Linked DNA regions of Homo sapiens: all the other regions are reported to be linked to region 2. Evidence: microRNA targets listed by miRTarBase, many of them from high-throughput screens and not tested one by one. Region 2 holds a microRNA gene; each other region holds the end of a gene's coding sequence.

Region 1 (4,354 bases), not on the chromosome of region 2:
CCTGTGATGGGTTACAGACCAAGAGAGTCATGTGTTTTGACCAAGACAAGCCAGCTCGGTTAAATGTGGATCCTTAAAGCCCAGCCCCAATCATGTCTTCATTGAGTTTATGACCTAGAGGAGAGAGGATAAAATATGTTCACAAATAACCATTGTACATAGTCCTTAGAGCTTCAGATAACCTGTTTTAGTTAGCAAATGAATCAGAAGCATCTTTGCCTTTCTTGTGCATCCCACACATACCAAGCACAGACCTGTTATGCGTGTTTAAGGATTCTTGTTTGTTGTTTTTTGTAATCCGTTTTAGAGTGAATTAAACTCAGACATCCCTGGATTGTATGCTGTCTGTAGAATGTTGATTTTCAGGCACGGGGATGTAGCTGTAGAATGTGGCTTGTTCATTCTTCCTGATAAGAAATTGATCTCCTGAATGGATTGGCCATTTGGTAATTTCTTAGTGAAAGGCTGACTCTTGAATATGGCTGTTATAATATAAATTCTTACCAACATAAAGTAAGGGCTTATTTGGGGCTTGGTAAAACTGTCATGCCTTGAAGTATATATAGCTTATAAATTGGCTAACATGTATTTATGACGTAGCTACCCCTGTGCCAGCTATCACTGACAAAGCCTGGATTCTGTTGCAAGGAGACATATATTGAGAGAAAATTGATTACAAGTAACTATTTCAGGCTCTGCTTTGAATTTCTCATTCACATGCTCTTTTTTCTTTTTCCCTCCAAGGGTCGGGATTACTGTTCGGAAGAAGAGGATATCACATAGCACCAATTTTACCACTCAAACCAGGAGCTACTACTGTGTAAATAGGTTACACCCCAGTTGAAATCTTTGCAAAGGTCGGTTCTATTCAGCGAACAGCACTATAGCAAAAGAAGATCGTTCCATATTGTACGCCCCATTAAATTACAGTGTTTCTTAATGAACTTGCAAAGGAATATTGCTAAAAACAAACAAAAAAAACTGTTATCGAACTTTCTTTGTTGCTGCTAGTTAAAACTTGTTGCAACTTTTCACTTCTCTTGTGTCCAGGTATGCAGCAAAATTCTGCAATTTCACCTTAAAGATACTGTTGGTTTTACAGATGCTCTCCAACCTATTTTCTATAAGATGAGGTAGTGGTGAACTCAGATAACAAACTTCTCTTCTAAACTGGTTCTGCTTCTAAGACAAGCATCTCCTGCCCTCTCTCCTTCCTCCCCATCTCTCGCACGCAGTCTAGAGATGGACTGAGCCTTGCTTCTCACTGGCAGTGTTGAGCTTTGGAGATGGGATGGTTGCTATGCCAAGCCTTGTTTCTCTGCTCAGAAGAAGTAGAGAAGCTATTATCAATTAAAAGCATGCTGTGATGTGACTCCTGGAAGTGACGTAGGAGTGAGTGGCAGGTTGTTTGATTTAATAGGTATCTTAATCAAGAATTAAGCTTGCAACATTGGCTTTGCTCAGATGCAGATGGAAGTGTGATCACAATCATTTTGAATCCCTCTTCCTCACTTTTTTTTCTAAGAAAATAAACATTTTACTGTTTTTATGGATCCTTGTCTTCTCCCATTCATCCAGCTCAGTGTTTTAAGATGATCCTGGGTGCAGAAGTTGAGCCCTCCTTTGCATTGACACTGATAATTAGCCTATAGGGCTCCCTACCCTTCCATTAAGAATCTACCAAGCATTAGCAAGGCTGAAAGTGGTCTAAGAGGTGAGGGGACATCCTATGACTTTTTAGGAAGGCCTGAAACCACCTTGTTACCTTTCATTTTGTTAGCAAATAAACCATCCTATTTTGTAACTCTCCCCCTTCAAAATGCTACATGAGCCTTGCCACTTCCTTTTTCTCTTACTTCCAGCACACTAGACATAGCAAAAGTGTTTGCCTACTCAAAAACATAATACTTTTATGCTGATGATGGTATTTGGAGATGTGAAAGCCAAAAGCCCCTGGCAGTGGTGGGGAATGTTGACTGAGTGTTCAGCAGAGTTTATTTTTCCATACTATATGAAGAGAATGATCTCTTCTCAAAGACAGAAGTGATATTTTTAACAAATATTGTCACAAGTAAATAGCAATCAAAAGGAGAAAATAACTTTTGTATTTTTTTAATGTGTTTGATAGCTTTGACGAGGGTTCTCTTTGTTACTTTCAGGGGAGGGCATCCTATTAAATGCCACGCCAGCAGTCCGGGTCTGGGTTTGTCCCACAAAATCACAGGAGCACTGTATGTTCCTCTCTTTTGGAGTTGTGACTTTGAAGGGCCTCAATATTAGCCACACTGCCGCCTGCAGAAGGTGGAGAGTTAAGATGTTCTATGTCAATTTGCTCTTGCCGAAAAGATGAGCCTCGATTTTAAAATCTATCCACATCCAACTGATGGCACCATTGATGTGCAAATAATGAGATTCCCTATCTCCTTTTAGACCTGGGACGGCAAAAGGGAAGGGAAGGAAACTTAGCAGAGTGCTATTGACTATAGATTCACATATTAGCAACAAAATCCCGTAATTCTTTTGGCCAACAGCAGCTATTTTGGGGAGCAGCTGTGGCTGTTACATAAATAGAGATGCAGCCAAAATTTTAGGCCTTTTATCCTGCTTCTAGCAGAAAAATGCAGGGAGAGTCAAGTAGTCTAGGGTTTCAGGTTGCCTCCCCTCATATGGTTTTTGGCCAAGTGACTAAAACAGTTTTCCACAACTGTAAACAAACTGCTAAGCCCCACCTCAAACTTGTTCACTGGGGACTTTGCTTACCGTTCTGTGGGTGACCTTTTCCGGGATTTCTTGTTCTTATCAAGCAAGAATTAAGCACATGCTAAACGTCTTCCATTTGACTTCTCTACTCGGTGTCTCAGACAGTGTCTTCCCAGAAAACCACCACCCTCTACCCAAAGATGAAACATGCTCATGTCATTTTTCTCATGGTCACATTTAACAGTTTTGACATGTTATACTTGCGCATAGATCCAAGCGTTTCTTGGGAACCTGACTTTTGAGTGTTTAATAAAGCCGGAAGTGGTGTTGCCCTGAACCAGCAGATTTTCACCTGGGTTCTGGCTCCGGTGTTTAACACTGGATACATCTTTGATGTGCGAAAGTGAGTTCATCTTCAGACACATTTGGTACATCCAGAAATAGATCCAAGAAATGGGGTGGTTGAGTGGGTCCGCACGAAATGCTTGATTATGTCAGCAACACCCAACACTGTCTGTTTTCCATTTGTTGGTTTTAATCATAAAATTGTCAAGTGATTCGTGTTTGTACTTTATTTTTTTGTGCCTTCTGAAAGGATCTAAAACAAAAATATTTTGCCTTTTTTTCCCCACGTGTATCTGAACATTAAGCAGATTGGCTCAGACACAATGAAAAGGATAATCCAATGTACGTGCTGGTGCACTCTGCTAGTTGTTATCTCTGTAGGGCTCAGGAAGCTGGAAGGAGGAAGGGAGGGTAAGTGGCCTGGTGAGTGGAGGTAGAAAAATGATGAGAAATGAACTGAGAGCATTAAGCAGAGAGGGTTGATAGGCTGGCCGTGTCCGGGGTGAAATTGGAAATCCAGCTGCCTAGTGGCCAGTGGGTGGGGCAAGACTGTCAACGAGATTTACAGCTGGCTTACACATGCCTTATGTCCTCTGAGTTGTAGAGTTGTAAAAGTTCAGCAGTGTGTGCACAGCTTTCTTTTGGTTGGCAGAGATTCAGGATCATGGAGTACTGCTCTCATAATTGAAGACGTGTTTGTTATTGGCAGAGAACCTTAAAAAAGGCCTTTACCTCAGCGATGCTTCCTAGCCCCAGGCTTGCAGAGAACACAGAGTGGTGTTGTGGTCTATTTAGGGACAAAGAAGGTATAAAGTCCAGAGATGAGAAAACTGGGTCAGCCCTCAGAAACTGCAGCAGCCACGCACACAGAAGCCTGCTGGAAGACAGGTCTCTCTCCGTCCACAGTGCCCATCATCTGAGCCTGGGCTGGGATGACTCAACTTAGCAAAGACGGACCCAGGAGGAGTGCTGGTTCTTCAGTCTTTGTACTGGCCCCATCCTCTCCTCACTGTAATGTGAGGAAGCACCTCTGTGTCAGGGCTCACCTGGGCATCCAAAGCGGCCACGCCCACAATCCGACAGCCCCCAGGAGCAGGTCCAGGGATGATGCAGCCCCCTTCTTGGTCCCATGTGATGTCATCCTGCTTTGTTATCTTCTTATAACTTTATCCTGCTATAACTTTATCCTCTTCCCAGCCTCATCCCTGTTTTTCTGTTAGGGCAAGACTCTTCCATAAGCCTGCTAAAAAACAGAGATGATACCTCTTACAAACTTTACCTCATAGCCTGTGAAGCAGGTTGGCATGTG
Region 2 (4,000 bases):
ACCTGGACTTCTCTAGCAAATCATTTGCAGGAACTGTTTTAAGCAAAATGTTTCTTCTAAGATGTCTGATATTTTTAAATGGCTTTTTTTTTGGCTTCCCTGTTCCAAGGTTAGACAGAAAAAATGTAGCAAGTATTGGCCACTTTAGGTACAACACAGATTTCTCCTATATTTGGAGAGTTAATTATTAAATCAAGAGTGTGAGTATTCATTTTCAGTTGGAGCCCTATGGAAGAACTGCTTTGCTCTGGGCTCTCTCCATCTGTACGTTATCTGATATTTAGCTTTATATCACTGGGACATGGTTGCTGCACAAAGAGAAGACAGCTGGCCTGCCCTGGGAGCAGGGTCCCACGAGTTACAAGAGAGTCAGAGAACAAACCAATGTTGTCAAGGTTACACCTTCATTTCCACTGTTCTTTGTTTGAAATGTTATCAGAGCTGCCAGGCACAGTGCCTCATGCCTGTAATCTCGGATATTCAGGAGGCTGAGGTGGGAGGATTGCTCAAGGCCACAAGTTCAGGACTAGCTTGGGCAAAATAGTGAGATTCCATCTAAAAAAATATTATTTATCAGTAATTTTAAAACAAAATTAACTGGGCATGGTGGCACATACTTGTAGTTCCAACTGTTTGGGAGGCTGAGGTGGGAGGATAACTTGAGTCCAGGGGTTGCAGGCTGCAGTGAGCTGTGATGAAACCACTGCACTCCAGCCTGGGTGGCAGAGAAAGACCCCATCTCTCTTTTAAAAAAAGTTATCAGTAGCTCAAATTTCATTAGCTACTTTGTGAAGATGTGTTGATTCTGCCATGAAAGATTTTCTCTGAGAGTCCTATCTGTCTGGCAGCTGGGGAGTAAGTCACCTTATATTGATCTTAAGATTATGGAAGCCTGGGCACGGTGGCTCACGCCTGTAATGCCAGCACTTTGGGAGGCCGAGGCAGGTGGATCACTTGAGGTCAGAGTCGGAGACCAGCCTGGGCAACATGGTGAAACCCTGTCTCTACTAAAAATACAAAACTTAGCTAGGCATGGTGGTGGGCACCTGTAATCCCAGCTACTCAAGAGGCTGAGGCAGGAGAATCACTTGAACCTGGGAGATGGAGGTTGCAGTGAGCCAAGATTGAGACATTGCTGGCTGACAGAGCAAGACTCCATCTCAAAAAAAAAAAGGGGGGTGGGTATGGAAAAGAATGTAATATTTGTGGAATTGCTATGGTTTAATGTACTTTGTATTTTTCTTTTTTTGGTTTCTTCATAGCTCCGTATACTATTATCACGTTCCCTTTTCTATTTGCTGTGATGTTTGGAGACTTCGGTCATGGCATTTTAATGACCCTTTTTGCTGTGTGGATGGTACTGAGGGAGAGCCGGATCCTTTCCCAGAAGAATGAGAATGAGGTAATGTTTAAGTTACATCTGCATTGAACTGAAATTTTATAATTTCCCAAGCATTCATTATGAAAATTATGATCTGGAAGTCTTTTATCCATGAATTTATCAAAAGGAAGTAGAGAAGTTATGTTCATTTTAACACCAAAGACGACATGTGCAAGCTGGAAGTGGTAGTGTGTGCCTGTAGTCCCAGCTACTTGGAGGCTGAGGCAGGAGAATCACTTGAGCCCAGGAATTCGAGACCAGCATAGGCAACATAGTGAGACCCCATCTCTAAAAAAATAAAAATTATTTAGGTTTGGTGCAAAAGTTATTGCGGTTTTGGCTGCCAAAAGAAATGGCCAAAACCGCAGTAACTTTTGTGCCAACCTAATAAAAAAATAGAGGCCACATCCTGTGAAAGTGACTGTCTCATTAGCATTGTATTTTGGTTTTTACTTCAAGCTCTCTGAATCAGGATGGGGTAAAGTAGTGCTGGAGAAAGGGGCAGGTATATTCTGAATAACATTGTCACAATGTGAGCTGCAGTGAGTACATTCTCATTACTTCTTTCTTCTGGTTCCCAGATGTTTAGCACTGTGTTCAGTGGTCGATACATTATTTTATTGATGGGTGTGTTCTCCATGTACACTGGCCTCATCTACAATGATTGCTTTTCCAAGTCTCTTAATATCTTTGGGTCATCCTGGAGTGTACGGCCGATGTTTACTTATAATTGGACGTAAGTTGCAGAAGAAGCTAAAATTCAAAGCTTATTCCTTTCATGTGCAGCCCTGATTTTTAAGACAAGTGGTAAACTGACACTTCTTTAGGAAGTGGTGACAGTGTCTCCTCATTCATGCTCCACACTGTGAGTTGCTTTGTGATTTGTTCAGCAAGTATCCAGGAACTAAGATTAGAAATGATTTTTTTTTTTTTTGGAAACTAAAACCAGATTCCCCAGTTCCCTACTTGATTGTGTGTTTGTGTGTTTAATTTTTCTTTTTGTCATTTTGGATCCCTCAGTCTCAGCTGCTAGTCTCTCCTCTTTATTTTTCCCCTCCCATTTTATTGAAGAGACAAGATAGCTACAGTAATTTATTTTGGGGTCAGTTTCTGGACCCTTGTTGTTTCCCTCTCTTGTTCAAAAATAATGTGACTTTTTCCCTGTCATGGTAGTGAAGAGACGCTTCGGGGGAACCCTGTTCTACAGCTGAACCCAGCCCTCCCTGGAGTGTTTGGTGGACCATACCCTTTTGGCATTGATCCAGTAAGAGGACTTCCTTCCTATATGCTAACCTCAAATTTTTTAACACTAACCCTGAAGCAAGAGAATTAAAATGAAGATAAATAGTTATGTGGGCTTTCACTGGGCATGGTCGCTCATGCCTGTAATCCCAGCACTTTGGGAGGCCGAGGAGGTGGGATCACCTGAGGTCAGCATGGTGAAACCCTATCTCTACTAAAAATAAAATATTAGCCGGGCGTGGTGGCGCATGCCTGTAGTCCCAGCTACCCGGGAGACTGAGGCAGGAGAATCGCTTGAACCTGGGAGGCAGAGGTTGCAGTGAGCAAGCTGCACTCCAGCCTGTGTGACAGAGCAAGACTCCGTCTCAAAAAAAAAAAAAAAAAAAAGAAAGAAAGAAAGAAACAAACAAAAATAGTTATGTGGGTTTTCGTTGACATATTTTTGGGAAACCTTGATGTATGTATTCAGAGGACTTCTAAGCCATAAGAGACCCAAGTGCCTTGAGGAGCCACATACTTTTCCCTGCGCTGCTTATTTCTGAGGTGGTTAATAATATCGACTCTGGGAAGATTGATTTTTCAAGACTCCTTCCCATTTCTTAATTTATTTCTGCTTACTTAGTTTGGTTTTTTATTTTTAGCAGACATTTTAGCAAAGCAGAAATATATTTTTCCTGTGGATTTTAGACTTGCATTCTTATATTTACGAACTTACAAAAACTTATCCGAGAATTAATTTTTTTTTCAAATGCTTAGGCAAATTAAGTATGATCAAGTCTTCTTTATTGTGTGCTGTAAAAATGGAGTGGCGGCAAGAATGTAATACAGGGCATCTGACTGCTGAGGAAAAAAAAAAATAATACAGGCTGGGCGAGGTGGCTCATGCCTGTAATCCCAGCACTTTGGGACACAGAGTCAGGTGGATCACTTGAGGTCAGGAGTTCGAGACCAGCCTGGTCAACATGGTGAAACCCCATCTCTACTAAAAATACAGAAATTAGCTGGGCACGGTGGCATATGCCTGTAGTCCCAGCTACAGGAGGCTGTGGAAGAATTGCTTGCGCCCGGGAGGAGGAGGTTGCAGTGAGCCCAGATCGTGCCACTGCACTCCAGCCTGGGGGACATAGCAAGACTCCATCTCAAAAAAATAGATGGAATGACAGCACCACAGGGCTACAATCAGCGAAACATAGACTGTGGGAAAATATATAAGATAAACAACCCAATTTCTTCAAAAGAAATTTTGTAATGAATGAAAAAGGAAAGATGGAAGGAGAACCTGTAGTTTAGAGACTCAAGAGATATATCTACAATCATAATGTATAAGCCAGGCACGGTGGCTCACGCCTGTAATCCCAGCACTTTGGGAGGCCGAGG
Region 3 (4,354 bases), not on the chromosome of region 2:
TATTGGCCAGGCTGGTGAACTCCTGACCTCAAGTGATCCGCCCTCCTCGGCCTCCCAAAGTGCTGGGACTACAGGCGTGAGCCATCACGCCCGGCCAGGCAACATTCTTAACAACTTCTCCAACAAAGAAAGATCCAGTTGAAACTTCAATAGGCCAAATAGATCCTCTACCTTCGAATCCCATAAAATGATGCCATCATGCATTCGTAAGGGCAGTGAGTGGGAGAAAAACCAGTCTCGATGCAGCTTTTAATTCAGTAGTTGCTCAACAAACCCTTTCTGAGGATGTTCTCGGTTTACAGCCACGGTGGAGTTTGACCTTGTTTCCCTTCATTTTAGGCAGGAAGAAGCTCCGACTGTTTGAATACCTTCACGAATCCCTGTATAATCCGGAGATGGCATCTTGTATTCAGTGGGTAGATAAAACCAAAGGCATCTTTCAGTTTGTATCAAAAAACAAAGAAAAACTTGCCGAGCTTTGGGGGAAAAGAAAAGGCAACAGGAAGACCATGACTTACCAGAAAATGGCCAGGGCACTCAGAAATTACGGAAGAAGTGGGGAAATTACCAAAATCCGGAGGAAGCTGACTTACCAGTTCAGTGAGGCCATTCTCCAAAGACTCTCTCCATCCTATTTCCTGGGGAAAGAGATCTTCTATTCACAGTGTGTTCAACCTGATCAAGAATATCTCAGTTTAAATAACTGGAATGCAAATTATAATTATACATATGCCAATTACCATGAGCTAAATCACCATGATTGCTAAATATACTTTCATATTTCATGGTTTACTGGCATCGGAAATCTCTACAAGTTTTAATGATTTCTCCCTCCCTCTCTTTTTTTCCTCCTCTGAAGAAATTTAGGATTTTTCTCTTAAAGCAAATACTAAAGAGGAAAAAAAATTAACTTTATTGTTGCTTTTATCAAAGAGTATGTAATCTATACTAACTTGTTGGGAAATTCTGCCAATGAACAACTTTTTTATAATACTTTGTGAAGATTCAATGAACAACTTTATTGTTTCAAATGATCAAGCCCATTTGAAAGTATAGACTAAGGTCCTTGCTCTGCTCTTACTGTTCTCTCTCTATTAAAATTTTTATTTTTTTATTTTATTATTTTTTAAAGATGTCTCAGCCAAGATAATTTTTTATTTTTATGGATTTAGGAGTACAAGTGCAGTTTTGTTGCTTTGATATATTGCATAGTGGTGAAATATGCATCCTCATCACCAGAATAGTGAACACTGTACCCAATAGGTAGGATTTCATCCCTCATCCCCCTGGCATCCTCCCACCTTTCAGAGCCTCCAGTGTCCATTACTCCATTCTGTATGACCATTGCTAAGCTCCCAACTATACCCATTTTATTTTATTTTAAAAATTGTTTTCTTTTGCTGCATACTTCAATGGATGCAAAGTCTTTTTCTTTTTTCTTTTTTTCTTTTCTTTTCACAGACGATGACTTCTTTTTTTGTTTGTTTGTTTGTTTTTGGCTGCTAACTCCCAAGCACAACACTGACAGTGACTTATATTTTTAATTTTTTTTTTTTTTTTTTTTTTTGAGACGGAGTCTCGCTCTGTCGCCCAGGCTGGAGTGCTGTGGCGCAATCTCGGCTCAGTGCAAGCTCCGCCTCCTGGGTTCATGCCATTCTCCTGCCTCAGCCTCCCGAGTAGCTGGGAGTACAGGTGCCCGCCACCACGCCCGGCTGATTTTTTTGTATTTTTAGTAGAGACGGGGTTTCACTGTGTTAACCAGGATGGTCTCGATCTCCTGACCTCATGATCCGCCCGCCTCGGCCTCCCAAAGTGCTGGGATTACAGGCGTGAGTCACCGCGCCCGGCTATTTTTAATTTTTTTAAGAGGCAAAGCCTACCTCTGAAGCTCTCTCTTTTTTTCTTTTCACACTTCAATAAGCTGGTTTAAATTCTTGCTATTCTCTATGCAACCACCTTCTTCTAGATTAACAGTGCCAGTACAGATGATTTGATTTATATATTGATTTCAGCATTTTCTTGTCATGTACTCAGGTGAGAAAATTCACACTTTTATATGATGGCTTTACAAAAAAATTTTGTAAATGACTGCATATGATAAAGCCTTTGTGCCAAAATGGGTTCATAGCTTTAAAAACATCACTAGAAATGTCTGTTCAGCTTCCTTACACATTTTTTTATTTCCTTCTCTTTTGATCTTACCCATTTTTACAACTTAAAGCTTTTTTTTTTTTTTTTTTTTTGAGACAGGGTCTCACTCTGTCACCTATGCTCAGGTGCAGTGACACAAACATGGATGAAGCCCAGCTAATTTTTTTTTTTTTTTTTTGTAGAGACTGTTTTGCCATGTTGCCCAGGCTGGTCTCTAACTCCTGGGCTCAGGTGATCTGCCCACCTTGGCCTTCAGAAGTGCTAGGATTACAGGTGTGAGCCACCGAGCTGGCCCCAAAACTTTTTTAATGTTTAAGTTTTACCACTGTACTAAGGAGGAGTTACCCATTTTTTTAATTGCCTTTTTTCTTCCTTCTTATTAGGGAGGGGTAAGGAAGAAGACTTTGTCAGCAGAAAGCAGGTCTTAATTGCTTTTTTGTTTGTTTGTTTTGTTGCTATTGAGTTGTTTGAGTTCCTTATATGTATTGGATATTAAACCCTTGTCAGATGTCTGGCTTGCAAATGTTTTCTCCCATTCCATAGGCTGTCTCTTTACTCTGGTGATTATTTCCTTTGCTGTGCAGAAGCTTTTTAGTTTGTTTGTTTTAGCTACACGTCATGAACTAAGAAGCTTTTTAGTTTGATGTGATACCATTTGTCTATATTTAATTTTGTTGTCCATGCTTTCGGGATCAAATCCAAAATATCACTACCCACACCAATGTCTTATATGTTTCCCCTATGTTTTCTTTCTTTCTTTTCTTTCTTTCTCTCTCTCTCTTTCTTTCTTTCTTCTTGTAATCATTAGAGAAATGCAAATTAAAACCACAATAAGATATAATCTCTCACCTGTCACAACGTCTTAAAATGTTTATTATTATGTTTTTAATCATCCTGTACTTTATTTCAAAACAATGTTTTCAAATGAAGACACAAAAGATAAGTGTTGGTAAGGATGTAGAGCAAAGGAAACACTTGTACACTGTTGGTGGAAATGTAAATTGGTGTAGCCATTATGGAAAATGGTATGGAAATTCCACCCCCCCCCGAAAAAAAACTAAAAATAGAATTATATGATCTAGAAATCCCACTTCAGTGTATTAATGCAAAAGACTCGAAATCAGTTTGTGGAAGGGATATCTGCATTCCTATGTTCATTGCAACACTACGCACAATAGCCAAGTTAGGGAATCAATCTCTGTCTATCAACAGATGAATGGATTAAAAAAATGTATTGCATATACATGATGGAATACTATTCAGCCTTTAAAAAGAAGGACATTCTGGCCAGGTGCAATGGCTCACACCTGTAATTCCAACACTTTAGGAGATCAAGGCAGGCAGATCACTTGAAGTCAGGAGTTTGAAACCAGCCTGGCCAACATGGTGAAACCCCATCTCTACTAAAAATACAACAATTAGCTGGGTGTGATGATGCATGCCTGTAATCTCAGCTACTTGGGAGGCTGAGGCAGGAGAATGGCTTGAACCTTGGAGGCAGAGGTTTCAGTGAGCTGAGATGGCACTACTGCACTCCAGCCTGGGCGACAGAGTGAGACTCCATCTCAAAAAAAAAAAGGAAGGAAATCCTGAAATTTGTGACAACATTGATGAAATTGGAGAACATTATGCTAAGTGAAATAAGTCAGGGCTAGAAAGACAAATACCACATGTTCTCATTTATATGTGGAGTTAAAACAATGAACTTATAGAAGTGGAGAGTAGAATTGTGGTGACAGAAGCTGGAGGAGGGGGAGATGGGGAGGTGATGAGCAAAGGGTATACAATTTCAAACAGGGAGAATATGTTTTCTCTTTTTGTGCATTCTATTGCACAGCATGGTGAATATAGTTAATAGTAGAGTGCTGTACATTTCAAATTGCTAAGTAAACTTCAAATGTTCTTACCTCAAAGAAAGTTAAGTATTTGAGGTGATGGGTATGTTAACTAGCTTGACTGAATTATTTCATATGGCGTTCACAAATCATAACATCATTTTGTACCCCATAAATTTTTTCCCCACACAACTCTCTCTTTACAGAACCCATAAATCTATACAATTATAAATAGTCAATTTACAATAAAAAAGAAAAAAACTTTAGTGGGTATCTTGAGTCTGTATTTTCTCTGCACTTCCACTCATGATCTGTAACCATGTGGCATTCAACAGATGACAGCCTAAGGAAAATGCCACTTTCCTTAA

Evidence for each region. The annotated mature microRNA hsa-miR-548at-5p reads AAAAGUUAUUGCGGUUUUGGCU and lies in region 2 at 1,702-1,723, shown strand. An mRNA with a match to its seed (bases 2 to 7 or 8) in the 3' UTR can be bound and repressed. Matches are read on the target gene's strand: a 7mer-m8 pairs with bases 2 to 8, a 7mer-A1 pairs with bases 2 to 7 and ends in A, and an 8mer does both.
Region 1: the mRNA of C1orf21 is a reported target of hsa-miR-548at-5p. Seed matches in the 3' UTR shown: 7mer-m8 at 2,097-2,103, 8mer at 4,207-4,214, 8mer at 4,223-4,230 and 7mer-A1 at 4,317-4,323.
Region 3: miRTarBase lists SPIC as a target of hsa-miR-548at-5p. Seed matches in the 3' UTR shown: 8mer at 908-915.

What each region holds. Positions count from the first base shown.
Region 1 is chr1:184,618,774-184,623,127 of GRCh38, forward strand. C1orf21 (chromosome 1 open reading frame 21) reads left to right here. Exons shown (of 6, transcript NM_030806.4): 6 at 745-4,354. The coding sequence ends at 783. All of the region lies in intron 2 of LOC107985236 (a long non-coding RNA gene), which reads right to left. Among named protein-coding and RNA genes, the nearest start is that of EDEM3, 130 kb to the right of the region's middle.
Region 2 is chr17:42,493,072-42,497,071 of GRCh38, forward strand. MIR548AT (microRNA 548at) reads left to right here and starts at 1,702; the gene lies at 1,702-1,759. It overlaps ATP6V0A1 (ATPase H+ transporting V0 subunit a1), which reads left to right. Exons shown (of 22, transcript NM_001130021.3): 12 at 1,263-1,402; 13 at 1,963-2,117; 14 at 2,555-2,645.
Region 3 is chr12:101,486,005-101,490,358 of GRCh38, forward strand. SPIC (Spi-C transcription factor) reads left to right here. Exons shown (of 6, transcript NM_152323.3): 6 at 340-993. The coding sequence ends at 767. Among named protein-coding and RNA genes, the nearest start is that of SPIC, 13 kb to the left of the region's middle.